Linked DNA regions of Homo sapiens. The protein of the gene in region 3 interacts with the protein of the main gene of each other region in a pairwise test. Each region holds a gene or a part of one and is shown on either strand. Other genes may lie near its edges.

What was found.
Region 1: the proteins of KRT19 (region 3) and CCDC146 interact in binary tests that used the Homo sapiens proteins (3 or more experiments, as listed by UniProt).
Region 2: the proteins of KRT19 (region 3) and NFKBID interact in binary tests that used the Homo sapiens proteins (3 or more experiments, as listed by UniProt).
Region 4: the proteins of KRT19 (region 3) and IKZF3 interact in binary tests that used the Homo sapiens proteins (3 or more experiments, as listed by UniProt).

The regions. Positions count from the first base shown.
Region 1 is NC_000007.14:77,272,529-77,279,830, reverse strand, and holds part of CCDC146 (coiled-coil domain-containing protein 146), read right to left. Parts: intron 6,138-7,302; coding exon 6,042-6,137; intron 5,609-6,041; exon of another isoform or gene 5,464-5,608; intron 5,350-5,463; coding exon 5,179-5,349; intron 2,318-5,178; exon of another isoform or gene 2,256-2,317; intron 1,688-2,255; exon of another isoform or gene 1,479-1,687; intron 1,080-1,478; coding exon 991-1,079; intron 895-990; coding exon 730-894; intron 1-729. UniProt on the Homo sapiens protein: Essential for sperm flagellum biogenesis and male fertility.
Region 2 is NC_000019.10:35,897,441-35,905,420, forward strand, and holds the start of NFKBID (NF-kappa-B inhibitor delta), read right to left. Parts: upstream 3,101-7,980; 5' UTR 3,063-3,100; coding exon 3,002-3,062; intron 2,304-3,001; exon of another isoform or gene 2,267-2,303; intron 1,383-2,266; coding exon 1,279-1,382; intron 1,093-1,278; coding exon 1,032-1,092; intron 417-1,031; coding exon 211-416; intron 1-210. Other genes in the region: HCST (hematopoietic cell signal transducer), read left to right, coding at 5,154-5,196, 5,911-5,976, 6,210-6,463, 6,680-6,751; TYROBP (TYRO protein tyrosine kinase-binding protein isoform 1 precursor), read right to left, coding at 7,129-7,194. UniProt on the Homo sapiens protein: Regulates the expression of IL-2, IL-6, and other cytokines through regulation on NF-kappa-B activity. Functions in the regulation of inflammatory responses.
Region 3 is NC_000017.11:41,525,035-41,532,749, forward strand, and holds the start of KRT19 (keratin, type I cytoskeletal 19), read right to left. Parts: upstream 3,275-7,715; 5' UTR 3,214-3,274; coding exon 2,794-3,213; intron 240-2,793; coding exon 157-239; intron 1-156. UniProt on the Homo sapiens protein: Involved in the organization of myofibers. Together with KRT8, helps to link the contractile apparatus to dystrophin at the costameres of striated muscle.
Region 4 is NC_000017.11:39,791,306-39,798,607, forward strand, and holds part of IKZF3 (zinc finger protein Aiolos), read right to left. Parts: intron 1,629-7,302; coding exon 1,368-1,628; intron 279-1,367; coding exon 111-278; intron 1-110. UniProt on the Homo sapiens protein: Transcription factor that plays an important role in the regulation of lymphocyte differentiation. Plays an essential role in regulation of B-cell differentiation, proliferation and maturation to an effector state.

The DNA.
Region 1 (7,302 bases), on a different chromosome or scaffold from region 3:
AGAGTCCAGAAGATCTTGGCACATGGTAAATAATAAATGAAGAAAACAACCATTTGCCAGACGCTTTTCTGAGTGTTTTTATATGAATTAGCTCATTTCACAGTAAAATGTCGCATGAAATATGGTATGGATAAGGAAAGTGAGCTCAGAGAGACAAAGCAGCTTGTCCAAGGTTACAGAGGTAATAAGTGGGAGGGGTGGTATTTGAGTCTGGACACCACCTCTTTCACCAATCTGCTATAACGTATTGCCTCCCACAACACATGAGATGCTTTACATCTACAATCAGGGGATGTTGGTTAACAAACGATTTGATTGTTTTCTAACTTCCCAATCCCAATTATTAGATTTGTGCTTTTCTTTCTAATTGGGCAGGTGAAAATCATCATAGTAAGCATAGTTATATGTTATGGTTTTTCATTCATTAAAAAAATGACTCCCAAAGAGTAGAAGCATGGTAGATTATCATCTATAAAACAAGATGTTTGAACAAGGGCTTTTTCTGGATTTCTAATTCTGGCTTTCTAAAATACTATTCTTTTTATTTTTTATTTTTATTATTTTTTTGAGACAGGGTCTCATTCTGTCACCCAGGCTGGAGGGCAGTGGCACCATCTTGGCTCATTGCAGCCTCTGCCTCTTTCCTATCTTCTTATCCCCAGGATTTTTAGAGTTCAAATGAATCAGAAAACAAGCCTTTGAAAGGCCAATAGTTATTATAACACTTACCTTTCTTGACTAACGGCACTATTTCTCAGAATTTCAAGTTCATTTAATGACATTTTATGCCTTTCTTTTATTTCATTTACTTTCTGATGAGCTTTGTGGAGTAAGTTAACAAATTTGTTTCTTTCATTTCGAATGGTGTCATACAGTTTAGCAAACTCTCTCAGTCTGTAAAAATACAAAGTGTTTACTGAAACTTATGAAATGAACATCAGGTTTTTTTCCCCTCACCTACGTAGATAAAACACCACATAATTACTTTACCTCCGATAAATTTCACATTTTTTCTTCTTGTGTATCCTGATTTCAAGATCCTTTGCTTTCATTTCTTTAACAATGTTGGTGTATTTTTGCTGAAATGTACAAAAAAATGTGAAATAAATAACAACATATGAACACTCCCAGATTTATCCCACATCATTCCCTTCCATTAAAGACAATTCTCCAGCCTAGGCAACATAGTGAGACCTCATCTCTACAAAAATAAAAAAATTATCTGGGTATGGTGGTGTGCACCTGTAGTCCCAGCTACTCAGGAGGCTGAGGTGGGAGGATCGCTCGAGCCCAAGAATTCGAGGCTGCAGTGAGCCATGATTGCATCACTCCGCTCCAGCCTGGGCGACAAAGTAAGATCCTGTCTCTCCAAAAAAAAAAAAAAAAAAAAAAAAATTATTTCTTGGCTTGCTGGGTTGTACAGATCAGGGTGAAGGGTAAAAGAGATCTGAAAATTCCCTGGCTAGCTGAACTGATTCACATTGGCTAAGACAAACTGTTAACTGTTACCTAAAGAAGAGAACAAACGAGAGAAGAGAAAACGCAAAGAGCCTGCATGGCTTGGGTTTGAGGAAAAGTTTGGACAACTTTTGAGAGAGAGGAAGAGTGATTTTGAACCACACAGCTGGACTGGGTGAGTGTAGTTTATGGAAAATAGATGAGAGAAGAGGATTCCTAGTAAGTTTTGGTGAGTGTTATAAACTGAACCCTCTGTGGTGTTTTGTCAGAGACTGAAGCAATGATTTTAAAGTGCTTTCCATTCTTTTGTATGTGGGGTGTTTTCCTACATAATAAGGCATCATATTGAGATCAGCTGTAAGGAGGTGTTACACATAAATATTTTAAAAGAAAGCAGTTATATTTCTAGAGTTCTAAAAAATATATCAAGTGCTAAATACACTAGTTATGTTCTTCAAATCAAAAGATACTGGTTCTTGCATCTGGGATAAGAAACATATTCAAAAATGAAGGATTTGCTGGTAGTAAACCAGAGGAAAGAGTTTGTCAGCCTTCTCTCAAGGACTGAGAGCAAAGCCCTTTTGGTATGAGTGATTTGAAAGAAACTAGCCATAGAGCCAAGATTGATGTGTAGCATTTTTCTAATGCTGTTCTCCATGAGAATAGGGGTCAGGAAGAAACGAATATTTAAGTAACTGTACACATGAATAATAAAACAGATGGGAAAATGTAGTGTCATCTATTCTGTCTTAGGGGTGATAGTGACATTGTTTTTTTTTCTTCACCTTTGTCTTTAGGGATGTGGATGCAATGTGAACATAAAAGATTGCCTTCTTATGGAAACTGCAGCTAAGTACAGGTAATGTTTAACACACTAATTCCTAATGCTAAAAATACTCAAGGGATAAACATTTGTCCTTTATCAATTTCTGTATCTCAAGAAGAATTGTCTATTTTGGTTTAATACAAATTAGCTCATTTAATAATGAGGTTTGCTTTACATAGATTAGTCACACATAGATATACATGTATATCAGTTTTTGAAATTAATTGAAAATTATCTAATTCATAAAACGGATCAGTGTTTCTTATAACAAATAAGTATACCTCTGGTGTTTCTGTAATTTCTAAAGAGAAAAGGGAGGAAGTTTCTAACTAGGAAAGACTCACTTGAGTGGGATCTTCCCAGCCAACACCAAGTTGTCCCAGACCCTGACTTGGTGAAGATGGCTTTCTTCTTCCTTCTTTTCCTTCCTTCCCTCCCTCCCTTCCTTCCTTCTTATTCTTTATTTTTCGTTTTTGAGACAGAGTCTCGCTCTGTCACCCAGGCTGGAGTGCAGTGGCGCAATCTCAGCTCACTGCAACCTCCGCCTCCTGGGTTCAAGCGATTCTCATGCCTCTGCCTCCTGAGTAGCCGGGATTACAGGTGCCCACCACCACGCCAGGCTAATTTTTTGTACTTTTAGTAGAGATGGGCTTTCACCATGTTGGGCAGGCTGGTCTTGAACTCCTGACCTCAGGTGATCCACCCGCCTTGGCCTCCCAACGTGTTGGGATTACAGGCGTGAGAGACCGCTCCTGGCCCAAGATGATCTTCCCACATCTCTCCTCTCTCCTCTCCTTGTCCTGCTCCTGCATCTTACCCGCTTAGCCACCCTGTGCTTTGAAGCTGCCTTTCTTTCATCCAGTCCTCCCTGACCACTTCTTTACCTAGTGAAACCCAACTACTCCATGAACTTCACTCTTGCTGCAGCCTTCATTATGGAGTCTAAATTGTTTAACATGGATTAAGTGACTTTCATCATCTGACTTGTCCCGCTCTCTGGTCTCACTATTTGACATCCTTTCTCCCCATCTTCCCATGTGCCAGCCATCCTGAACTTCTTTTAGTTTCTTAAATATTAAAGTAGAAAAATAAACAGTGAAAGGGGGATGTGAAGTGCCTGCAGTGGGTTGTGCAATGTAGATCTTCTCTTTTTTGCAAAAATCTACTTCATACCTCATTGCTCACTAATGCTTTGGCGTGAGTGAGCTCTTTCTGCAGAATGAGAAGAAATACCATTCTATGTAAATCCTTACTTAGACTGAGAACAAGGGATGTGCTTAGAAACAGACCAAACAGACCACATCTGGGTCATGAGATAAATTCTTTTTTTTTTTTATTTTTGAGAGGAAGTCTCGCTCTGTCACCCAGGCTGGAATGCAGTGGTGCGATTTTGGCTCACTACAACCTCCACCTCCTAGGTTCAAACGATTCTCCTGCCTCAGTCTCCCAAGTAGCTGGGATTACAGGCACCTGCCACCATGCCTGGCTAATTTTTGTATTTCAGTAGAGATGGGGTTTCACCATGTTGGTCAGGCTGGTCTCAAACTCCTGACCTCAAGTTATCCACCCGCCTCAGCCTCCCAAAGTGCTGAGATTACAGGCATGAGTCACCATGCCTGGCCTGATAAATTCTTCTATTTTAGTAATATGTAATATCCTGTTTATTTTTAACAGGGAGCTTCTGGGCATGATCTGGACATAATCCTTATATGGAATAAACAATTCTAATGGTAGAATTTTAGCTTGCATGACAGGAGTGCTGCCTTACCATTTGTTTTATTGTTGATTTTAGGGGGGAATGTTGCACTGGCACTTTGTAGGAGGCCCAGGAAAATCATGGTGTGATGAAGCAACTAAGGGTATCTGGCATTCGATTAAATGATGCTGTCTTGATGAAGTTGGGAGGGACAGTTACCTAATGCTACCACTCTTGAGTTGTTCCTGGACAAATCACAGTGGAGTCTGAGATGGGAGTGAAAACTAAATGATATCTGCAGCCTATGCAGCTGCCAGCCCTGTCCACTGGAGGCACCCACTTTATTCTTACTGAAATTGCCATCTGTTCAAATCCTCCGATCATTATCAATGATCTCCTTTCCCATCTAAATTGTTGATTACTGTTAATTGAATCTTGGGACTATCTTTCAGTGCATGATTGAATCTCATTTAGGGAAGATTTATAGTCACTGGTACTTGAAGGAGAGGCACAGTTATAGTGGTTCCTTGGTATACATAGGGAACTGGTTCCAGGACCCTTTGAGAATACAAAAATCCAAGCATATTCAAGCAGTCCCAAAGTTGGCCCTGTGGAACTCACCTGTAAGAAAAGTGGGCCTTCCATATTTGCAGGTTTTGTATTCTGTGAGTACTCTACTTTTGATCTGCATTTGGTTGAAAAAAATCTGTGTATAAATGGACCCATGCAGTTCAAATCCATGTTGTTCAAGGGTCAATTGTATAGCTTTTCTTTTTTTTTTTGAGTTTCCTTCCAGTTCTTTTTTTAATATTTATATATTTTTATTATACTTTAAGTTCTAGGATACATGTGCACAATGTGCAAGTTAGTTACGTATGTATACATGTGCCATGTTGGTGTGCTGCACCCATTAACTCATCATTTACATTAGGTATATCTCCTAATGCTATCCCTCCCCGCTCCCCTCACCCCACAACAGGCCCCGGTGTGTGATGTTCCCCTTCCTGTGTCCAAGTGTTCTCATTGTTCAATTCCCATCTATGAGTGAGAACATGCAATGTTTGGTTTTTTGTCCTTGCGATAGTTTGCTGACAATGATGGTTTCTAGCTTCATCCATGTCCTAATGCACGTGGCATTATAATGAGGCTACCCTGAACTCTTGTAGTTATCAATGAATGGTTAAAAAAATGCAGTTACCTGAGCTTTCAGGAAATCCTTGGACTTTTGTTCCTTTTCATCAATTTTGATTTGAGTCATGCGGAGAAGGTTGACTACTAGCTCTTTCATGTTTTCTTGCTCCTTTAAAAGCTTGTTTTCTTCTGCAAGTTGTTGTTCTACTAACTTAGACTCCATTTCTGATATAATTTTCTTTTGAAAAAAAACACAGATAATATTATAAGTTATTTGTTTGAAGTAATACAGTAAAGCTAGTATCTTAGACTACCTTTTTACTTCCTATACAAAATGTATTTTTTTAAACAGGCCAGGTGTGGTGGCTCACGCCTGTAATTCAAGCCTTTGGGAGGCTGAGGCAGGATGATGACTTGAGGCCAGCAGTTCAAGACCAGCCTGAGCAACATAGCAAGATCCCTCTCTATAAAAAAAATAAAAATTAAAAATAAAGTAATGGTGTTTTAGCTTCATTGTTTTCATTTTGTAAAATAATGTGAAAATCGATGGGTTAACATGATAGAACCTCTTTGTATTTAGACTGTATTTTCAAGTGACTAAGAAAAAGAAGACACATAAAAACAAACGAAAATTTGAAATTAGACATTGGTGAAATAAAACATCTGTGGTTTACTTTTAATGTAATCAACAGCCCATAATTTAAAAATCTCATTCCTTTGAATACTTTTTGCGGTTCAAACATATTCTTTTTTCTCAAATTTAGTGTAGGATTGGAGTGGACTTTGAGATGAAGAAATATGCCCACATGAAGCAGGATCATACTCTCTTTGATGACTCTCTTATTGATAAGGTTTTGTGGAGCACAGTTAAAAGCACAACTTTGTATGAACGCTTCTTAGATAGAAGCTTAAATGAGCATTGATATTAACCTGTTGGGCCAAATTCCTCTTAGCTACTTCAACTTCCTTGTGAAGCTCTCGCCTTCTCTCAGATAATGTAGAATCATCTTTGGGGATAGCTTCCATCTGGAAATCAAAATTTAAAAACATGCATTTATGTAAGAAATAAATCTTTGGGAGGCTGAGGCAGAGAATTGCTTGAACCCGGGAGGCAGAAGTTGCAGTGAGCTGAGATCGTGCCACTGCACTCCAGCCTGGGTGACAGAGTGAGACTCTGTCTGAAAATAAATAAATAAATAAATAAATAAATAAAATTCACTGCTGTGTAGTCAACCTCATCACACACTTTTTGAAAATGCTGAGCAAATCACGAATCTCAATCTTATAAGAACTTCCCTTTATGCCAAATATTCTTTATAAGCCATGGCAAATTAAAATATGAAGACCTGCCAAAAATCTATAATTTGCCAGCTGCAAATGTTTATTATTTAGAAATAAATCTTACTAATAGCTAACATTTATTGAACATAAACCAAGTGTCCAGCAAGGTTCTAAATGCCTGTGTATACGATCTTATTTCATCATTACAATACCCCTCATGAGGTGGGGAATATTTTCTCCAATTGTACAGATGAAGAGAATGAGGCACAAACACATTTAAGCAACTTGCCTCAATGGTGCAGGTGTAAACCCAGGGAGGTAGACTTGGAACCCATGATCTGCCTAACTCATCTAACTCATGACCCAGCACTTTGGAGACATGAATATACTATGACTATTCAAATTATAGTTATTATAAAATGTGAGTACATTTATGAAATTGTATAGGATAAAGAAAAATATGTAATTTATTAATAATAGTGGGGATAGTTTGCTACTTATATATAGTCATTTGATTAGTAGCTGGAAATTTCTTACACAAAAGAAAAGCCTCAACTTTTTGGTTGATACCTAAAATTTCACCATTACATTTCTGTTGTAACGGCTTGCACTTTTCTCCTGTGTTGACGTACTTTAGGGAAAAGGCAAATCTCACTCTTTAAGTCTTTGTTGCCCTATTAGGAATGAGCTTGTCAGATTCTTTGTGATGAAGACGAGAGTAGAGAGGAGGACATGTGGCAGCTGATGGGGAAAGGGTACCATTCAAGGCTACAGGGAGGGTCATCTTGGGGTGCTTCCAGCCTACTTGACTTAGAGCAAGTTTAGAGTTGGCTATTTACACCAAAAGCTCATGACTCCAATCTGATGTGGTTCAGTTCCTACTGTGACAGCACACACTTGTAGGCCCTAA
Region 2 (7,980 bases), on a different chromosome or scaffold from region 3:
ACCATGTTGGCCAAGCTGGTCTCAAACGCCTGACCTCAAGTGATCCGCCTGCCTCAGCCTCCCAAAGTGCTGGGATTACAGGTGTGAGCCACCACGCCCGGCCTGGAAAAGGGAATCGTAACTGAGCTCCAGACATCTCAGAATACTGCAGGAGTGCAACTGCGAATTTTTAGGGGCCCTTCAGCATCCTGTACCCACTCTGTATCTCACCTCCATGCCCTGGGGAAATGGGCACGGCTGCCCTGGGTCCGAGGGTGGGTAGAAGTCAGGAGGCAGGAAATTTTCGGCAGCAGAAGCAGGGCAAGAGTAGGGGCTGTCAGTGTAGGCAGCATGCGTGTTGGGGTCCCAGTCTGGAAAGCCCAGGCTGCTAGGTCCAGAACCCACAGTCTCCGAGTGTGCTGGGAAGGGAGGGTGGCCTGCGTGTAAGAGGAGGGGCAGGGGCAGGTCTGGTTACCAGAGTTGGGGACGTCACATCCAGGGCTAGAGGGCCTGGCGTCTCCCAAGGTACTGAGAGTTAGTACTTCTGGGACACCAAGCTCCCGGGACCTGGATTCCTGGGACACTGAGGAATTGAGGGCCTGGACTCCTGGGGCACTAAAAAGGCTGAGCCTGGGCCCTGGGGCTCCGTAGGACTATGTGCATAGACTACTGGACTCAAGAGAACCTAGGAAATCAGACTGCTACTGAGTTCCAGCAAGAATGAGGGCCTACCAGCCTAGGCAACATAGCCAGACCCCGTTTCTACAAAAATTTAAAAAATTAGCCAAGCAAGGTGGCATCGCCTGTGGTCCCAGCTACTTGGGAGGCTGAGGCGGGAGGATCACTTGAGCCCAGAAGGTTGAGGCTGCAGTGAGCCAGATAGCGCCACTGCACTCCAGTGCCAGGGCAACAGAGTGAGATCCTGTCTCAGAAAAAAAAAAAAAAGGGAAGAATGAGGGCCTGACTCCCAGGTGTCCCAAAGTTCTGAGAGCTGCGATGTCTGAGTCCCTTAGGGAAGGGGGATGGGGAGGCCGGGAGCTGAGAGAACTTACCAGTCACAGCCTCATTCACAGATGGGGTCAGGGGCTGCTCTGGGGGAGGGAGAAATTGTCCCTGTAGAGACAAAAGCAAAAAGGAACCCAGGTGACTTTATCTGGCAGATTCCTCCGGGTCTGTCTCGGATCTATAAGACATTTCGGTCAGGACCACCCCTCTCATCAGCCCCGAGGGCCCGGCAAGCCGCTGAGTCCCTACGGGACAGCACGGGGCCTCCGGAGAGCTGTGGCTCCCTGGCCTCACCTGCACCCCGCCAGCGTCGGGCTGCTGCTGCTGGCGGCGCCTCTGCTCTTCCAGAAGCTTCTTCACGGTTTGCGTTGGGCAGTGGCTGCGCTCACCCCTGCTCACTGTGCGGGAGAGGAGAGGGGGAAGTCATCAAGGGTCCTTAAGTCACCTAAATGCCGCGGGGGTGGCGCGCGGGGAGTGGGTTTGGGCACCCTCCTCGCCCTCCCGCGCGGAAAAACTGGCACATAGATGCCGCCTGACTCCTCCAAAGCCATTAGAAGATTTGGGGTGGGGCATCCGCCTCCGCCGTTTCCTTCCTTTTGCTCCGCACTTTCCCTCTGACCCAACTTTCCACCACCGTCGCGGAAAGTGAGGAAGGGGGAGGAGGGCACCCCTCTGCAGCAACCACCCCACTTCCGTAAAAAAATTCCACCCCCAGATATCCAAGTTTTGAAGTCAGCGGGTTGGTGGGGGGCCGGCGCCAGGCGTCACTCCCTAGACTCACATCCAGGTTCCCAACATTTTTTTCCCTAGAACCTGACCCGGAAATCAGGAGTCCCCAGCGCCCCTCCTCGAGAAGTCAAAGGCCTCACCCCGGGCCGGGAGCGGTGGCTCACGCCTGTAATCCCAACACTTTGAGAGGCCAAGGGGGGCGGATCACCTGAGGTCAGGTGGCCAACATGGTGAAACCCCGTCTCTACTAAAAATATAAAAATTAGCCGGGCGTGGTGGCAGGCGGCTGTATATCCCAGGTGAGGCAGGGGAAACACTTGAACCCGGGAGGCGGAGGTTGAGGTTGCAGTAAGCGGAGATCGCGCTACTGCACTCCAGCCTGGGCGACAGAGAGAGACTCCATTAAAAAAAAAAAAAAAAAAAAAAAAAGGCCCATCCATACAGTCTCTTTTTCAGGCCCCAGGAATCTGGACCCTCAGTTCCTTCCTCTCTAGGACCTGGGAGCCCCAGTTCCCAAACTCCTTCCCACGACTCAGAAAGACAGAACCCTCACCCTTCCGAGCCTGGGTTCCGGCGGAGGAAGGGTTAAGTGGGGATTGCGCGGGGCGGGGGCGGGAGGAGGTGGCTCGGAAACAGCCCCGACGCGGCGCGCTGACGCCACGGCGCTCACGCAAGGGAATCTTCCATCCTCCCCTTCCCCCCAAGTCCTGTGCCCCAGGTGTCCTGCTCCGAGGCGGGGCGCGCGGCCGATCGTGGCGCTCGTGGAATCCCCGCGCAAGGGGAATTCCTGCTCAGCCCCGCACGGGTGGCCATCCGGAAATCCCAGGGCGGGGCAGAGGCAGGGTCACCGCCAGCGTAGACCCTGAGGCCAGGCTCCGGACCCTTCCCCACCGAGACCCACGCCGATTTTAAGCAACCACGCCCCCCCCCCCCCCCCCCGCACTCAGCCTAGTCCCTGCTTCTAGGGGTAGGAGTCTCGGTTGCCAGCAACCCCTAGCACCTCCAAGGACCCAGAGATCCAGCCTCCCAAGCCTCCCAGCCCTTGCACCCTCGGGGCCCTGCGATCCTGGATCCCCAGGCCCCTGCACCCCCAGGACCCAGAAGTCTGGGATCCCAGCCGCCCCTCTGTCACGATCCACGATCCCCTCCTCCTCCAAACACCTAGGGCCCTCACTCTCGGGATAAAGGACTGACGCTTCAGCTCCGTCCCTCAGGGCCTCGGGAGTCTTTCGATCCTCAGTCCCTCACTCTCTTAGGGGGCCGAACGCGTCCTGCCCGCGCCCATTACCTCGGGGATTCCGTGGCGTGGATTGCGGGCCCCCAGGGCCGCGGCCTCGGCGCTGCGCCAGCCTCGCTGTTTCCCCCGCGGAGCCGCCGCCGGGTCCCCGATCTTGGGTCCGGTACCCGCGAGTTTTTAAACTAGGGGTTATGGCACCGCCCAGTCCTGGGCAGGGCCCGCCCACAGGCCTGGGAGTCCCCGGGTCGCGCTCCGGCGAACGCAGTCCCTGAATGGGCGCGGCGGACTTGGGAGGCGGACTACTCAGTCCCCCCGGGAAGGAGGGAGCTGGGGTCCAGATCTTTGCTCTGAAGGAGCCTAGGGCACCGGGCTCCAAGAGGAGGGAGAAACCGGGGGGCCTGGATTTCTTTTCTTTTCTTTTTCTTTTTTTTCTTTTCTTTTTTTTTTTTTTTTTTTTTTGTTGTTGTTTTTGAGAAGGAGTCTCTGTCGCCCAGGCTGGAGTGCAATGGTGCGATCTCTGCAAACTCCGCCTCCTGAATTAAAGCGATTCTCCTGCCTCAGCCTCCCGAGTAGCTGACACTACAGGTGCTGGACACCATGCCTGGCTAATTTTTGTATTTTTAGGAGAGATGGGGTTTCACCGTGTTGGCCAGGCTGGTCTCGAACTCCTGGCCTCAGGTGACCCGCCTGCCTTGGCCTCCCAAAGTGCTGGGATTACAGGCTTGAGCCATGGTGCCTGGCTGGGGCCTGGATTTCTGGGTCTGTGTCTAAGGGGGTGCTGGAGGCTTTGTCTCCTGGGTCCTGCCCATGGGGGTAGGGGTAGGAGTGGGGATGGAGATGGGGTGGGGGCAGGGAGAATATTACTGGGTCCAGAGGGAGGCAGGACTGGGGGTCTAGACTCCCAGAGGAAGGGTCTGTGGGTAAGGGTATAGGGTGTGGCTCAATTTCTCCCTCTCCCCTACATCACCCTTTTTAGAGGTCTGGTTTCATTTACTCATTCATCATTTAAAATAATTTATTGCAGCAGAGGAGGCATTTTGCTGTGTATTGTGAACTAAGCAGGCAGGAATTCCCAGCCCTGGAGCTGGCATTCCAGTGGGAGGCCACTCTCAGTTTCACTTGGTGACCTTTCACAGCACTGACCATGTTGGCCCTATTTCTCCCCTGCTTGCTTGCTTTTCTATTTTATTTTATTATTACATTTTTATTGTTAGAGAGAGGGTCTCATTCTGTCGCCCAGGCTGGAGTGCAGTGGCAAAGTGGTGAGATCTCGGCTCACTGCAACCTCCACTTGCCTCAGTCTCCCAAGTAGCTGGGATTACAGGAGCCTGACACCATGCCCGGGTAATTTTTGTATTTTTGTAGAGACGGGGTTTCACCATATTGGCTTGAACTCCTGATCTCAGGTGATCCCCCCACCTTGGCCTCCCAAAGTGCTGGGATTACAGGCATGAGCCACTGCGGTGGCCTCTCCCCTGCTTTCAAGATGCCATGCTCTCAGGGGTCCCCTCCCTCTTTCTCCATTTCCCTGGCAAAGTTCCTCCTCTTCCCCCATTCAGTGTGTGTTGTGATAGGGGCAGAATCCTGTCTGCACTCACTTCCTTGGTGATCTCACCCAGTCTTGTGGCTTTAAGTACCATCCATAAGCCATCAACCCCCAAATTTACATCTCCAGACCAGCCTTATCCCCTGAACTCCTAAATGCAGTGAGGTTATTCAGCATCTCCACAGGGAGATTGTCAGGCATTTCCAACCCTGTATGCCCAAACCTCGTCACTTTCCCCGCAAACCCACTTCCCTACCTTTCATCTCTGCCAGCAGACACTCCCATCTTCTCAGCGTTTCATGCCAGAAGGCTTGGCTGTCTAGGATCCCTCTCAAACACACCCACATTCATTTAATCAGCAAATTTTCTTGGCCCTACCTCCAAAATATTTCCAGATCTCCCTAGCCTGCACACCCTTGCCACCTGTCATTCCCACTTGGACCAGGCCAGCAGCCTCCCTGGTCTCTCTGACCCTCCCCCTGAGTTCGTTCACCAAAGGCAGTAACGGAGACACCCCCTCAACACACACAGGAAGCAGATGGCCTTGACACCAGCAGGGTGACATCCGCTATTGCTACTTCTCTGCTCCCCCACAGTTCCTCTGGACTTCTCTGGACCACAGTCCTCTGCCAGACCCCTGCCAGACCCCAGTCCACCATGATCCATCTGGGTCACATCCTCTTCCTGCTTTTGCTCCCAGGTGAAGCCAGTGGTTACAGGGGATGGTAGGCAGAGCGTTTGTGAGATGGGTGCTTGGGTGACGTCTGCAGGGACGGGTGATGAAAGTGGGGTTCTTCTCCCTGCACCCCTTCCCTTCTGGGAGATCCATTCTGCTTCAGGGCCTGGGTCCTTGGGGGCGGAAGGGGGTGAGACAGGGAGTTCTGGAGGGGCTGCCTGTTAGCGTCCCCTTCTCATGGCTGGGTCTCTGCTGCCACTTCCAATTTCTTGTCACTCTCCATGTCTCTGGGAGTCCCCTTCCCATGTGGTCCTGTTCCATCTCTCCAGCCTGGAGATTACTTCTCAGGACACTACCTTTCCTTCTCTACACCCTATTTTTTGGTTTGTTTATTTTGAGATGGGGTCTTGCTCTGTTGTCCAGGCTGGAGTGCAGTGGCACAATCACGGCTCACGGCAGCCTTGACTTCCTGGGCTCAGGTGATCCTCCCAGCTCAGCCTCCCGAGTAACTGGGATTACAGGTGTGAACCAACACTTCCAGCTAATTTTTGTATTTCTTGTAGAGACGAGGTCTCACTATGTTGCCCAGGCTGGTCTCGAACTCCTGGGCTCAAGCGATCTTCCTGCCTCGGCCTCCCAAAGTGCTGGGATGACAGGCGTGAGCCACGGTGCCAGGCTGAGCATTCTGTTTTGTGGACCTTCTCTCCACCCTCATCCACCTTCTTTCTCTTTCCACAGTGGCTGCAGCTCAGACGACTCCAGGAGAGAGATCATCACTCCCTGCCTTTTACCCTGGCACTTCAGGTATCACTTCCACCCCAGAAGCTTGGCCAGAGGCTCCCAGAACACCCCAGTGGTTCTCCAGGTCACCATCCCACCTCCCGTCCCCAAATCAGAGGATCCGTGTCCTTCTCCGAGTCCCAGAATCAGCGACCCCCAGCCTGTGTTCAGGAGCACCCCGTGTGCCCGCCGCACAGCCCCGAGGGTCCTGGGACACCCCAGCCTCTCTGCATCTGTCTCCCGTTTCATTCCCCAAGCGCAACTCCAAGGAACCTGGGACCCGCCCCCTCGCAGGGGACTTCCTCTCTGCCTGTGGCCAAAGCACAGCCCCAGGACGCAGAGCTTGAGTTGTCTCCCTGTTCCGGCCCCCACTCTCCAGGCTCTTGTTCCGGATGTGGGTCCCTCTCTCTGCCGCTCCTGGCAGGCCTCGTGGCTGCTGATGCGGTGGCATCGCTGCTCATCGTGGGGGCGGTGTTCCTGTGCGCACGCCCACGCCGCAGCCCCGCCCAAGGTGAGGGCGGAGATGGGCGGGGCCTGGAAGGTGTATAGTGTCCCTAGGGAGGGGGTCCCAGGGAGGGGGCCCTTGGGGAAGCCCTGGAGGAGGTGCTGGGGAAACCCTGGGGGAGGTGCCTGGGGGAACCCCTGAGGAAACCCCTGAAGCAGGGGGTCCCCAGGGAAGTGGAGATATGGGTGGTCAAGCTTCATGCTTTCTCTCCCCTATCCCCAGAAGATGGCAAAGTCTACATCAACATGCCAGGCAGGGGCTGACCCTCCTGCAGCTTGGACCTTTGACTTCTGACCCTCTCATCCTGGATGGTGTGTGGTGGCACAGGAACCCCCGCCCCAACTTTTGGATTGTAATAAAACAATTGAAACACCTGTAGTCGTATTCTTTCTCAAAGAACCCCAGAGTTCCCAAAGCCTCCCTCCCATGAACTGTTTCTGGATCCAAGGCCCCCTCAGAACCCCCACATGTCCCCATCCCATCAGCCCAAGGATCTGGCATAATGTTTTTGTGCTTCATGTTTATTTTAGGAGAGTATTGGGGAGCGGTCTGGTCTCTCAGGGATGGCACTCTGTGGGTCTGTATCGCGGTAGGAGTTGGAATGAGGTGCAGGGTGGGCTTCAGGAATGGCTGGATCCAGGTATCATGTTGCTGACTGTCATGATTCGGGCTCATTTGTAATACGGCCTCTGTGTGTTGAGGTCGCTGTAGACATCCGACCTCTGACCCTGGAGCTCCTAAAGGAATGGGGGCCATCAGTGGAAGGGACCCACCAAATAAAATCCAGCCTTCTCCCAGTGGCCTGCAAGGCCCCTGGCAGCTTCTTCAGCCTTATAGCCATGAAAGAGATCCGGATTTTATTCAAGTACATTCAATGTTCCCCCTTCTCCTCTGCCTCATCAGTGTGCCCCAGCCTCAGGGTCCCTGCGTGTGCTGTTTCCTCTGCCTAAAACTCTGTTCCCCTAGATCCCCTCTCCCTTCAAGTCTCAGCTCACGTCACCTCCTCAGAGAGGCATTTCTCAATTTCCCCTCTGTAGTTTCTTCCCCCCACACTCCAGCCACTGTAAAAAAAAAAAAAAAAGCCTGTTTATTTCCTTTACTGTGCCTCCCAAAATTATTTTATTTGTTCATTTGCTTTAAGTTTGTCTTAACTAGGATATAAACTCTGTCACTGTGTCCCCAGCATTTAGCACTTATAGGTGCTAGACACATCCACAGAGGGAATAAATACATCCGGGTAATGCTTTGCCCTAAAATTTCACTGCCACCAGTAACTGGAAGGGCCCCTCGGTCTTCTGGATATCACAGAGCCAAACCTGAGATTCTTAGACTTCACAAAGAAACTTTATCCACAAGTGAGGTGAATAGGCAAAGCTGGTTGCAGACAATATATCAGACTTCACACAGCAGTGTTCACACTTGGGGTAGGGGGAGGATCTATGTGGCCCCCAGGGGCAGGCCTCAGACAGAAACCCTAAAATCATATATGATGACTAGTCTGGGCGTGCATTCTTCAGGGGAGA
Region 3 (7,715 bases):
CCTCAGCATCTCTGAAGACTTCCCTACCTCCCCAGAGTTCAGGAGTCCATAGGGGGGTTAGCTTCAGGCCATCTAGGCTAGGTGAGGGCAGATTCTAAACCCCCCAACCCCTACCCCAGTCCTGGCTTCTGCAGCCCCCAGGACAGAGACACTCACTTGGTTCGGAAGTCATCTGCAGCCAGACGGGCATTGTCGATCTGCAGGACAATCCTGGAGTTCTCAATGGTGGCACCAAGAATCTGGAAGGCAGAGGCAGAGGTTGGTACCAGTTCAACACACAGGCACTGCCCACTCACTTTCTTCCCAGAAGAGAGAGGGGAGCAAATGAATATACCCCGGCACCCTAGAGACCAAAGCCCTAGCCAGCATCTGCCGCCCATTGGCCCGCTCTCTGGGAGGCCTTGCAAACAGTCCATGCCCAGAAGCTGGGGCAGGAAGAAAACTGGAGCCAGGGGGACTTGGGTGGGGGAGGGCAGGAAGGCAAGCCTGGGGAGGAAATCTCTGAGACCTGTGTGCAATGAAACTCTAAATGGCCTGAAGGGGGTCTATAAACCAGATGGGGGGTAGATTTTGTCTATACCTGCCCCCCCCACTATGCGAAGCATATTTTGCCCCCAGGGAAGAGAATCCCATTTGTTGAGTATCAATTATGTGCCAGGCACTTTGAATCTCATCTTTTATAGCTTCTGGAACCTCACTGCTAGGTCAGTGGGTACTCCTATCTTACAGAGGTGGAAACTAAAGTTTAGGATGATGCCTCATCCAAGTTCACCCCAACCTGAGGTCTTACTGACCTAAGAGGCGCATTCACAACAGCCAGCTTATCATTGAATAAGGTAATTGTGTTCTGTTTTTCAAAGAGCAGGTCATCACTCATTAGTCAAGGCACCAGGTGGTGATTGTATAGTTTTGTGTTTTGGGGGGGTTTTTTGGTTTTGTTTTTTGGGGTTTTTTTGAGACAGAGTCTCGCTCTGTCACCCAGGCTGGAGTGCAGCGTCGCGATCTCGGCTCACTGCAAGCCCCGCCTCCCGGGTTCACGCCATTCTCCTGCCTCAGCCTCCTGAGTAGCTGGGACTACAGGCGCCCTCCACCACGCCCAGCTAATTTTTTTTTGTATTTTTAGTAGAGACGGGGTTTCACCGTGTTAGCCAGGATGGTCTGGATCTCCTGACCTCGTGATCCGCCCGCCTCCGCCTCCCAAAGTGCTGGGATTACAGGCATGAGCCACCGCGCCCGGCCGATTGTGTAGTTTTTTAATGCAACAGAATAGGCTACAAAATATCAGAGGGGATTTCTCTTAGTATGGTGAGAATTGTGTCACCCATTTGTGTGTGTGCATGTGCACGCACACACACACACAGAGGTGAGAAAAAGAATGCGTAAGGGTGCGTAGTAAAATGTACTTATTGTCGCAATTTTTTTTTTTTTTTGATACAGGGTCTCGCTGTGTTGCCCCAGGCTGGAGTGCAGTGGCACTGATCACGTACAGCTCGCTGCAAGGCACACGCCACCATGCCAAGCTAATTCCTTTTTTTTTTTTTTTTTTTTTTTTTTTGAGACGGACTCTCGCTCTGTGGCCGAGACTGAAGTGCAATGGCGCAATCTCGGCTCACTGCAGCCTCCGCCTCTTGGGTTCCAGCAATTCTCCTGCCTCAGCCTCCCAGGTAGCTGGGATTACAGGCATGCACCACCACGCCCAGCTAATTTTTGTATTTTTAGTAGAGACAGGATTTTACCATGTTTGCCAGGCTGATCTCGAACTCCTGGGGCTCAAGCAATCCTCCCACCTTGGCCACCCAAAGTGCTGGGGTTACAGGCGTGAGCCACAGTGCCCAGCCCCTGTAGGTCACAATTTTACAAGTGTGTAAAGCACTGTTTTTGTTGGCTGTTGACATCTCTAGCGCTTCCTCCTGGTCTGTGGGTCTGGGTCTATGCCACGAGTACAGCACTGGAAAATATTTTGGGGATCTGTTTGTTGGGAGACCCAGCGTGTGCGGCTGTAAATGTTCCATGGCTTCTGATACATTTCTTTACGACTCGAAAAATTTCTCCTTCCCTCTGGGTGGAGACCAAGCCCTACCCCTCAGGCCCCTTAGGGTTCCCCTGTAAGAGCGTGTGACGCAGATCCGTTCTTTCCCCGACAAGGAGCTGCCACTGTACTGGGTCCTCCCCAGCAGAGGTTTACCAAGCCTCCCTCCTTTACCCCGCCCAGGGGCCACGACCGGCTCTCCCATTCTTCCTAAACGAATGGGCCCCAGGGCGGGAGAGTGGGAGGAGGCCAAAGCCTGAGAGGGATGAACACTAGACCCTTCCGGCCAGAGAAACGGAATGCAGGAGGCCCTACGCTGCGGTGGCAGAGGGGGCAAGACTGGCCCCGGGTGGACCAGATCACCAAAGCCAAACTCTCGCATCTTCCTGCGGCAGCGCGGCCCCTGGCCTAGACCTCTGGGCACTCTACAGCCGGGTCCCATCTCCTCCCACTCTTCAGGCCTCGCTGACCCGCGTCCCTTCTTCGTCCCGGGGCTCCAACCTTGCCCCCGCCACCTCCAGAGGCCCCACCCACTTATCTGCCCTGCCCAGTTCTCCTCCCCTTTCCACCACCCCGGCCTCTGCATCCAGCCCCGAGGTCCTGCCCCGCACGTCTCCTGTCCCCCTTTACTCGGCCCCACCTGTGGACCTTCCCACGTCCTAACGGGCTCCTGCCCGCCGCCCCGCCTGGAACCTCGCCCGGCCCGCGGGGCTGGGTTTCCGCGGCAGGTGCACTGCACTTCCCGCGGCCGGGCCTCCGCCCACCTTGTCCCGCAGGTCCTGGATGGTCGTGTAGTAGTGGCTGTAGTCGCGGGAGGGCCCAGGCCCCTGCTTCTGGTACCAGTCGCGGATCTTCACCTCTAGCTCGCCGTTGGCCGCCTCCAGGGCGCGCACCTTGTCCAGGTAGGAGGCCAGGCGGTCGTTGAGGTTCTGCATGGTTAGCTTCTCGTTGCCCGCCAGCAGCCCGTCGGACGCGGTCAGGACGCCGCCGTAGCCGCCGCCGTAGGCCCCCGAGGAGGACGAGGACACAAAGCGGGCGGAGGACACGGATACGCCGCGGCCGCCGGAGCCCCCGTGAATGCTGGGCGCGCGAAAGGCGACCCCCGGCCCAAAACGCACGGAGCCGCCGCCCAGGCCTCCGAAGGACGACGTGGCCGACGACTGGCGATAGCTGTAGGAAGTCATGGCGAGGCGGAGCACGGACGGAGCAACCCTGGTCTCAGAAGCTGCGATTCGCGGGAGGAGCGGCGAGGCCCTCACCTGGCGCCTTTTATGCCCGCGGCCGGTGGAGGGGGGAAGGGAGGAATGGTGTCAGGGGCGGATATCTGAGCCCTGAGGAATTTGCAGGCTCCTGAGAGCAAATATGGGCTCTCTCCCCATTGGTCAATTCCCTCCCCTCCCAGAGACCAGAGGCCCCTGCCCTCCAGAGGTGCCCCGCCCCGGTCCGCGCAGAAGCTCCGACCCGCACTCCCCCACTCTCTCTCTGCAGACCCTGTTCTGGCCTTTCCCCCGTCAGGGACATACCTGGACACCCCTGTCCCTGGAAGCCACATTCTGAGCCTCACCCTTTAAGATCACCCAGAGTTTGACACCACTGGGAATTACAGTCCCTCTGGGGTCATATTCCTACACACCCCTGACCCAGTGATTTTGTTTTTGTTTTTTTGGAGACGAGTCTCTGTCGCCCAGACTGGAGTGCAGTGGTGTGATCTCGGCCCACTGCAGCCTCCATCTCCCGGGTTCAAGCGATTCTCCTGCCTCAGCCTCCGGAGTAGCTGGGATTACAGGCACGCGCCACCACGCCCAGCTAATTTTTGTATTTTTAGTAGAGACAGGGTTTCACCATGTTGACCAGGCTGGTCTCAAACTCCTGACCTCAAGTGATCCACCCGCCTGGGCCGCCCAAAGTGCTGGGATTACAGGCGTGAGCCCCTGCGCCCAGCCCCAGTGATTAACCATTCAGAGTGCTCCCTGTTAAGAGCCCCTTGCTTGCGATCCTAACCAGCCCGCCCCCCACAAAGTGCATTCACAGATTCCTGCCCTCCACTGGAGATTACAGCCTCTCAGAACCAGCTTCTTGGGAACACCCATGCCCAACTCCCCTTTTGTCCCCTCTGACAAAGGCACCAGTTCCGGATCAGGGCACATCCGGGCATTTTGAGCTGCACGAACCCAGCCCTCTCAAGACAAAGCTGCCTCACCCTGCTGTCGCCATTCAGTGCCCCAGGTGACAACAGTCTCCTGAGAACAGCTGCAGGGAGCGGTTCTGGCAGCTGACACCTTTCCAACACTAAGCTCCAGCCTGATCCTCACTCTGGAACCCTCAAAGCCCACTCGTCCCTGGCCACCAGGATGATCCCCTCCCTTCCATCCCCCAAAGCATGCGTTCATTCAACCACAGGAGTATTGGGCTGCTTTAATATTTCCAAAATGAGGAAGCAGAGCCTGGGAGAGGCCAGTAACTTGCCCATGAGGCATTTAGCATCTGCCACTGAAAGGCAAACATAGGATGAATCCCTGCCCTCCTTGTCAGAGGGCTGCTGAATGCATGTCCTCATCCTTGTATAAAGATGAGTGCTTGAATGAGCTGGGCAGAGCGACACAAAGTGCCCGGCACAAGGTAAAGGTTTTGACAATAGAGGCAGGGCCTTCCTCCCCACACAGCCCCACCCCTTGCTCTGTTCAACAATTCCACCCACCGTTTTGGATCTCTTTGGAGGGCCATGCCCCCTGCCAGGCACTACAGGGCGCTGCAACAACCTCACCCCAGTTCCTGTCCCCAGTGACCCCCGTCCCCAGAACTGTCCCCATGGTTCCTTCTTGTCCTTATGGCAAAGCATTCACCCAGGCTTGGAACAGAGGCCCTCCTGAGAAGGTATTAAGGGAGACAGGCCAGTCCCTGCCCATCTCTGGGTCTCAGTTTTCCCTCATGAAAAGAGGGGTGGCCCAGCTCAGCCCTCTTCTCTGTGTATTATCACCTGGGTCACCTGTGACTGGTGGAGACTTGTCTCCAGCCTCGGAAACCTAAGTTCCCAGCAAACTACCTGTTAGCTGCCAACTCATCCTTGAACTGGGGCAGGAAACCCCGTAAATACACACCCCTAACCCACCAGGAACCGCTCTGAGCCCTCAGGAAGGCCAGTCTGAGGCTGTTTAACTAGTGAATCAGTTGCAGAAAGACTGAAGGTCTTTGGAGAGCCCAAGAGGGAGAAAGGGGAGTCCAAGACCAGCCATAAAAGCCAGCACCCTGTGACTGGTCAGCTCTGAGTCATTCCCTTATCAGGCACTGATGAGGAGGCCTGCTCCTTGTTAGCGGGAAGGGAGATTGGCCAGATAGTTGCCATGCACACAAAGCCCCAATAGGCAGCTCTGTTTTTCTGGCCTGATAGGGGGGTCTGGGGAGGGACTTTGTATTAAAGGGCAAAGAATAGAATCAACAGTTCCATTCGTAAGATTAAGGTGTTCTGAGCTCCCTAACCTTCAGAGGCACTTGGAGTCCCAGCCCCCTACTCTAAGACCATAAACAGAAGGACAGTTGACTACAGGGTAGCACAGTTTAGAGCCTTTTCAGATCTCACTGGATCCTCACAGCAGCCCAGTGGAAAAGGTATTCTTATCTCCATTTTACAGATAAGGAAACAGAGGCTTGGTGAGAGGCAGTAATTTGCCAAAGGTCCACCGCTAGGAGTATCAGATTCTGGCCTCCAGCTTCTTGACCATCAGCCAAGAGTAACGGAGGCCCTGCTCTCCCTTCCAAGGAAGTCTCGGCCCCCAAAACAACTCCTTTGGGTGCCTTCCCTCAAAATCTTATCATGCCAGTGCCAAGGGCAGTCAACCCCAGACTGAACTGTTGGCTGGGCTAGGGAGAATACCTTGTTCCCTCTCTCTGGCCAGAAACAGTGCCTGGCCATGAGGTATGTGGCCTTTGGCACTTTCTGATTCATCAAGGACTCAGGAGAACAGTCTGTAGAGGCTGCCCTACCCAGAGATGGAACTGGAGGTCAAGCTGCTGCTCCCATTTAGGAAACAGTGCTCACAACCAGGAGGCTCCCATCAGCCTCTGGCTTCAGGAGGGCAGAACCTGGTCAGAGGAGCATCCATCCAATGTTCATGTCTCCAGTCTCAGGTCTGGGGTCTGCAGAAGAGGGGTACAGAGGGTCAGAAGTGATGGGTATGGAATGGTGAGCTCAAAGGAATCCCAGGGAGGATCCTGCCCAGCCTTCCCCAACTGGATTCTACAGAACCCCAGCACTATGAGATCCCTGCAGGAAAAAAGATCCCTGTCAAATAAGATCGGAAACTCTGCTCTCTCTGACTCTCTTTTGGAGTTTCACAAGGCACAGTACCAGAAGCCCTGGAAACCTCATTTCCTCATTTGTAAAATAGAGATGATGATGATGAGGAGGAGGAGGAGGATACCTATTTCAGAGGGTTGCTTCAAGTGATAAATGTAATGGTGCTTGTAAAAGGTTTATCACACCTGGCAAATAGCACTCAAACAGCATTATTATTATTATTATATAATGTTATTTTTATATAGTATTTGTTACTATAATTTTGGCTACAAGTGTTATTATTTAACTTTCTTTAACCAGTATTTCCCAAGTGCACTGGACCATGGAATCTTTAAATATCTATTAATAACCCATGAATTACAGAAAAAGCCAGTCCAGCCCCAGGATGCTCAGAAAGGTAAAGTGACTTTCCTGGGGTCGCATGATGATTCAACCGACTGAACTGAGGCAGATCTGGGATTCATTTCTAACTCCTAACACTGAGGCTGAGGCCCCCTCTGCCTCTCCACTTGGACATACACATGAAGCTTCTTATCCTTCAGCAGATGCAGGTGGTTCCCAGAGTGGAGAGGTTAAAGGTAGGGGGGTTTTCATCATCCCAGGAGAAATGGGATAGTCATTGGAGACCACAGGAAAGAAGCTGGGGGTGAGAGACCTAGTCCTTGGATAGAATGGAATGGTGTGATAATGACAACAAGAATAATGATGACCAAGGTGATAATAATACAGTAGATAATCATAGCCAACATCTACTGGGCCAGGCTCCATGCTAAACACTCTGAATATATTATCTCAATGAATCATGTTAATTAAGTATTATTGTCCCCATTTAACAGTCAAGAAAATTGAGGCTCAAAACGGTTAATATCTTGTCCAAGGTCACACAAGTAAGTAGTGGACTGGGTATTTGGGCCAAAATCTTTCACTCCCTCAAGCCACAGTCCCAATTGCTAATGCTGCCCTCCTCTCATGGGAAAGGGATCAAGGTGCCTTCTTCTGCTGCCCTGGAGAAAGAGCCACCAAGTTGGGGAAGGCATTGTATCATCTGCCAAGATCCCAACTTGCCCTGCCTGCTCTGATGCACAATTATTTGTTTGGTCAGTCAGTGGGCCATTCAAGCAAGTTTCCTCCAAGTTGAGCCTAGCAGAGGAGACAGACTCGTGTCCATGAGCAAAGCAGAAGGCTCTGTTCATAATCTGGAGGAGAGGAAAGGTAAATGTGTGGAAAACTTCATGAGCTTGCATGTCCTGTCAATTAGTAGCTCCTTACCTGAACGGCCTCCGCTTCCCCAGGGACCACCAGCACAAGGAACTTCCTCACCCGCTCCTCCATTCATTCAGTGAACATGCATCAAGCGCAGCTTCTGTGCTACGCATGCTGCCAGGGGCTGGG
Region 4 (7,302 bases), 1.7 Mb from region 3:
CAGAACAAGAATGACAGATTGAAACCTTCCTACTTAACTCTTTCTAGTTTCCACACTGGGCTCTGAGGAATGCACTTCCTAGACAAGGAATGCTCATTTCTCTCACTTACCAGAATGTGTCCTAAGATGCCCCGTGAGCGCATCTCTTCTTTGGCATGCATAGTTGCAGAGGTGACACTTAAAAGGTTTTTCCCCTGTGTGCAGTTTAATGTGGCGGAGGAGGTTACCTTTCTGAGTAAAAGATGCCCCACACTGATTACACTGGAATGGGCGTTCACCTTTAAAAAGGACAAAAAAGGAGATTTCTGGTCACAGGCAAGTGGAGAAACATATGCACAGATTAGATGCCTAGGGGAAAAGCTCATCTTTTAGACAATTACTGTTCACATTGGGATCAGTTGGGAGCTGCATTTCAAGGCAAGCCTAAGACTTACTTATGAAATCTCCTCTGTAGAAGAGAAAAAGCACCCACTAGCAAGGCTATTTTAGGTATCATATTGAATCAGAGCAAAGAAACAAGAGCAGCTCTAGAAGTGCTTTCTAGATCTAAGTTTTTATATTACTATATTACTTGGTACTCCCTTTTTTTTTTTTTTTTTTTTTTAGACAGGGTCTTCTTGCTCTGTTGCTCAGGCTGGAGTGCAATGGTCCCATCATGGCTCACTGAAACCTTGACCTCCTGGGTTCAAGTGAGCCTGTCACCTCAGCCTTCAGAATAGCTGGGACTACCAGTGTTTGCCATTATGCCTGGCTAATTTTTTAGTATTCCTTTTGAATATAATCTCCTTTGAAAAAAGAGCCAGAAACTAAAGTCCTTACAAGGTGTTGAGGGCTAGAAATTCTCCTTTTTAAAGTCTTCATATGAGATATGGGATGGAATCGACTGGCTCAAGTGCGATGGTTGTGTTTGTATGCATTTCTATAGACTACCTGTTTATTGTCTGAAGATACATTATTTTAAGCTGGAAATAAAAACTATGTCCTTTCATTTACCAAATTTGAACCCAATACAATAAGAAGATCTGCTCTTATTAAAAATGTTATGCAAAAATATACAAAAGATGGCTAAGAAGCAAATCACACAATTCAACTCCTACTTAGAAACTGAAGAAAAAGTATTTGGCTGACCTAGAACACTGTGCTCTCTACAGTCTTTTTTTATTCATAGCATTTGCAATATGTTTGCCAAATGCATGGTGAGGCAGGAATAAAAAGCACTGAGTGAACAGCAATGCAGAGAGAGAGATACATCAGCATTATAGCAAAAATCAATGAAAGTAACCAAAAGTTCCAAATTCCACCACTTCATTTCTCACGTGGCTGCATTAGGAGAGTTTTCAGAAGAATGAAAAAAGCAGACTATTTACCAGTATGGCTTCGCTTATGAACCATTAAGACATTGAAGCTGATGCAGGATAATCCACACACATCGCAGTTCATCTTTCCACTGGTTGGCCTGCTACTATCGAATGAGACAACATGTCTCTCCAACTTAATGTTTTCATATTCATTATATTCTCTTGAATAGCTGTAAGGGATTTCAGGCTCTTCTGCATTTCCCATGGGTTCTGACTTTAAAACATTCTCATCTCTTTCACTGTATTCATCTTTCACTTTCATTGAATCATCTGCAGGGAAGAAAATGCAAGAAATGAACAACGACTATACTTGAAGCTATCAAAGCAGCTCAAACAGCAGAGACCCACAACTGACAATTAAATACCAATCGAAGCTAACAAAACACTGTACATCTACAAAACAAGAAAGCACCATTAGCGTGACCGCACGTTATTTAAATTCAGAACCACAGTCAGAGGAAAACACACATACTTACACACATAAAAATAGACGATAGTGTTTTAGGCTATCCAGAAAATTACAGATAATAGATTTTAGCTAAGTTTGCTCAAAGTGGCCATGAAACAAACATTGAGCAACTCTTCTCCAGTACTAGGGGAGAGGAAGGGTTCTCAGATCTAGTACTGTTTTTGGTGGCTGCAGTTAAAAAGGCAAGGTGATGTACTCTTAGGTTTCAAGGAGAAAATATTGTTTGAATCCTTCAGATGCATCCAGTGTAAGCCATTAAGATTAAGAGTTGACTAGTTAACATAGTTTTTCTAATTTTAAGCCATGCATTGCCTCTTCCCCTTCCACGTATATGAATTGCTAAAACACATCTTATCTCTGTCTCTCTTGGAGCTGATAAAGGCACAACATTGACTGTAGAGGAAGTTGTCAGTACTAATGAAAAAGTGTTGAGAAAGACAAAAGGAAAAGTAATTCTTTCATATAACCTAAGGAGTCACTTTCATCGACACAGGTAAGTGGGGCTCAATCTAAATAAGGGGAAGGACCATTAGGTCCCAAGTTAGGGAGAACTAAACTCAAGGACTCAAGGATTGTGTAATAGGACTGGATAGGAGAGGAGGGACTGGCTCAAGTGAGTTGGCTGACCAAGTACTATCTTAAGAACTGCAATGTAAATGAATGAAATTTAAAAGAAGAGCTGTAATACTCTTCATGAAGAGCATAAGAACATATGAAGAACGTGGGAAAAATATGAAGAACATAAGAAACAAAGAAGGCAAATTTATGTACTTGCACTGACACTAGTAAAACCTAAAAATTTGCCTGATGTAAGAATAATAAACATTTGTAAGGGATTTTGCATATATAAAATATGCTATATAAATGCTTACTTTTTCAACCATTGGTCCTTAGAAATCAAAAGTTGTACCTCCCCATGAGGAATCACAAATCAATGGAGTGTAGGGCTGGAAGGGAATTTAAAGGTCATCTAATCCAACCCTCTTGTTTCTCAGATGAGGAAATCTGGGAGCAGAGATGTTTTTGGTCATTTGTCGAAGGTTACACATCCAGTTACTGGCAGAGGTGTGATTAGAATGCAAAACTTAAGCTTGAACTATCAATTACTTGGATTTGACCTCATGCACTAGACATATAAGGCCTAAGTGGGTTCTTACCAACTGTATTACACACCCTCCCATCAATGGTGTAAATGTTAAAACCCAAAACAGTCTGAAAAAAGATATTTTAAAAAACTACATCCCTTCCAAAAAACATCAGTAAGTGTTGCTCCTCTTGCTGCATAGGAGGAAGTACAACTGCAGCTGTGCCTGGCTTGCTACCTTCAACCCAAGTTTCAATTTTCACTTCTATCAAGGTTACCTTTCATCTATATTAACTGTGTTTGCTTAATAGAGCAAGACAGGGCCTAACCACCATCAGAGGAGCCAGGGCTGCCACACAGTTCCACTGCTTCCTACCACAGTTCATGGTTCACAACTTTTCACTCTTTGACTAGCAAAGATGTAGGGCTGTAGGATAAGTCCAACATGTTTCAAATTTGCCCACCCTATGGATCTGGATTATATAAGAAATGATATCTGTTTCCTACTTGGAAAGAGGTTTACTTCTTTCTCTGGATAGGTCTTCCCTGCTTTCAAGTGGAATTTGTTTGCTTAAGTGTTTATTTTTTATTTTTTTAAGAGAAGGATGCACCTGAGGCTTGTACTTGCCTCCCTTCCTCCATCACTCCAGCTGTGGGTAATATCCCACCAAAGCTTGAGTGCTCTTCAGTTTGCATGTAGGCGTTTAAAAGAACCTCAACGGAAAATTTCAGCTACTTAAAACCAAAAACAGCAGATAGAAAAGGCCAGCAGAAAAGGATCCTTTCCATTTTGGTTAGAAAATGTGAACATGACCAGACTCAGGCCACTCCATGGTCACTGAACTTTAAAATGTAGTAAGATCAATGTGTTGAGTCTTTCTGAAAACAGAGGACATAAGAGAGCTGCTCCTTTCCCTCAGGATTTTGGCTTTAGTTGGCCTGACCTGGAATTCAATACGACACCATCCTGGCTCAAGAGCAGATCTTAGCTTTAGTCCTTTAGGAGTCAGCTATAGAGCAAGGAAGACAGTATTTGAGACCCAGGGACATAAGGACACAGGGACAGGGCATTAGAGAAGTCCTTTGGGCTTACATAGTTGCTGGTTTGCCTTTGGAGTCTTACCAGTTTTAGATGAATGACCTGGATGACCTCTCTGCATGGTTACTGGGGATTAGCAACTTATTTTTATTTTATTCTATTTTATTTTTTGAGACATAGTCTTGCTCTGTTGCCCAGCCTGGAGTGTAGTGGCACGATCAGCTCACTGCCACCTCTGCTTCCCAGGTTCAAGTGATTCTCCTGCCTCAGCCTCCCGAGTAGCTGGGATTACAGGCATGCACCACAATGCCTGGCTGATTTTTGTGTTTTTAGTAAAGACGGGGTTTCGCCATGTTGGCCAGGCTGGTCTCGAACTCCTGACCTCAAGTGATCCACCCTCCTTGGCCTCCCAAAGTGCTGGGATTACAGGCCTGAGCCACCGTGTCCAACCAGATTCTAATTTATTCTAATATTCAACTCTGTTACCTTCTCAAGGTAAGCCATAATAAATTGCTGGCTGGGCATAGTGGCTCATGCCTGTAATCTCAGCACTTTGGGAGGCCAAGGCAGGTGGATCACTTGAGGTCAGGAGTTTGAGACCAGCCTGGTCAACATAGCAAAACCCCGTCTCCACTAAAAATATAGAAAATTAGCTGGGCATGGTGGCTCCCAGCTACTGGGGAGGCTGAGGCAGGATAATCGCTTCAACCTGGGAGGTGGAGGTTGCAGTGACCCGAGATCGTACCACTGCACTCCAGCCTGGGCGACAGAGCGAGACGCCATCTCAAAAAAGATAAAATAAAATAAAATAAATTAGAATTTAAGGTATGAATGAGATTCCTGAGAGATATTAGGCTTAGTACTCAGCCTCCAAACACAGTCCACCAAAACCAGGAAAGGCATTAGCCTGCTCTAATGAAGAGATTCATCCCATTCCCTGGAAGACTTATTGAAGCAGAGAAAAGGGGTGTTCTACTTAGAAAAATTCTATTAGAAAATACTAATGAACATGTCTAAAATCAAACTTGTCATCTTTGAACCCAAACTTGCTTCTAATTTATGACTTATTTATGTTGACAAATGGCATCACCCTTCTTCCAGTCTCCAAGCCATCAAACTGTGGAACCTTTTCTCTTTCAATTTCTACATCAAGTCAGTCTCCAAGATCTATCAACTCTATGTCTTCAGGCTCTCTAGGTGCCAACTCCTCTTTTCCTTTCCTTTTGCAATTTGGTTTCACCTTTCATCACATCATACCTAAATTCATCCTCTCTCAACATTCCTTTCTTTTTTTTTTTTTTTTGAGTCAGAGTCTCACTCTGTTGCCCAGGCTGGAGAGCAGTGGTGTGATCTCGGCTCACTGCAACCTCTGCCTCCCTGGTTCAAGCGATTCTCCTGCCTCAGCCTCCTGAGTAGCTGGGATTACAGGTGCCCACCACCACACCTGGCTATTTTTTTAATTTTTTTTTTTTAGTAGAGACGGGGTTTCACCATCTTGGCCAGGCTGGTCTTGAACTCCTGACCTCGTGATCCACCCACCTCGGCCTCCCAAACTGCTGGGATTACAGGAGTGAGCCACTGCGCTCGGCCTCAACATTCCTTTCTAGACAGATTTAAGACACAGGTGGTCCAGGAGCGGTGGCTCACACCTGTAATTCCAGCACTTTGGGAGGCCGAGGCGGGTGGATCATGAGGTCAGGAGATCGAGACCATCCTGACTAACATGGTGAAACCCCATCTCTACTAAAAATACAAAAAAATTAGCCAGGCGTGGTGGTGTGCGCCTATAGTCCCAGCTACTCAAGAGGCTGAGGCAGGAGAATCGCTTGAACCTGGGAAGTGGAGGTTGCAGTGAGCTGAGATCCCACCACTGCACTCCAGCTTGGGTGACAAAGTGAGACTCCGTCTCAAGAAAAAAAAAAAAAGACATAGGTAAGCTATGCTTACTGCCTCTACAGCCTCAAAAAGGACTCAGAATTCTCTGTAATATGGCTTCCGCCTCCACAATTCACTTAATCTGCTCCCTTGAATATCACCAACCATAATCTCCTGATTCCTAGATTCAGAGCCTTTTTGTATGCCACTCTCTCCAACTTCTTTGTAATCCTCAACACTACTGACCACTCACCATTCCTTGTTCTTCTGCACTCCTATGTCTTTTCTTTCTTTCTTTTTTTTTTTTTTTGAGACAGAGTCTCACTCTGTTGCCCAGGCTAGAGTACAGTGGTGCGATCTCGGCTCACTGCAACCTCTGCTTCCCAGGTCCAAGCGATTCTCCTGCCTCAGCCTCCCGAGTAGCTGGGACTATAGGCACGTGCCACCACACCTGGCTAATTTCTGTATTTTTAGTAGAGACAGGGTTTTACCATGTTGGCCAGGCTGGTCTCGAACTCCTGACTTCAGGTGATCCACCTGTCTTGGCCTCCCAAAGTGTTGGGATTACAGGCATGAGCCACCGTGCCCGGCCCCTGCACTCCTATTTCTTCAATGAAAATGTACCTTCTTTCCTTGCCTTTCTGATTGCTTCCTTCTTGCCCCTTTTCTTCCCTCTGCATCCTAAATACTGTCCTTAACCTTCTTTTTTCTTCCCTCTACACCCCTCTTGTATGGCAATTTCATTCATTCTTAAGGCTTCGACTAACATCTTATATGATTAATTTCCATATATATAACTCCAGGTGTAACCTCTCTCCCTTTCTTTAGTCCTCTATTTCTGAAGGCTTCCTAGGTATCTTCCCAGTTACTCAGGCTAGAATCCTTAGAGTCATCTTTCCTTTCTCCTGATTGGGCCCCACATTCAATCATTCAGTGGTTCTATCTGTGTATCCAATCTCTAATCTGTTTCTCCACTCCTGTATTTTGCATGCCCATTACCTAATTCTCAGACCCTATGACTTTCCCACGATCTACTTATTGCTGTAGCCCCCGCACTGTTCTCTTTGGCTCCCTTCTTTCTCCTTTCCAGCCCGTCTTGTTTGTTGCTACAAGATTGCTCTTCCTAAATTCTACCTCTGGTCATGTCATAGCCCTGTCAAAATTCTTCAATATTTTCCACTGCCAACAAAATAAAGTCCAAACTCAGAAACAAATAATTTAAAAGGCCTTTCGGGATCTGGCCCCAACCTATCTTTGGCATATTAATTTTGACTAGTTAGATCTTTAACTAAAGAGCTTCTAAGTAGTCTTATTTCTACTGCCTAAAAGATCTTTCCCCAATATGGCCACAGGTCCAAGTCCTACACATCCTACGTATTTTTTTTTTTTTTTTGAGACGGAGTCTTTCTCTGTCTCTCAGGCTGGAGTGCAGTGGTGCGATCTCTGCTCACTGCAACTTCTGCCTCCCGGGTTCATG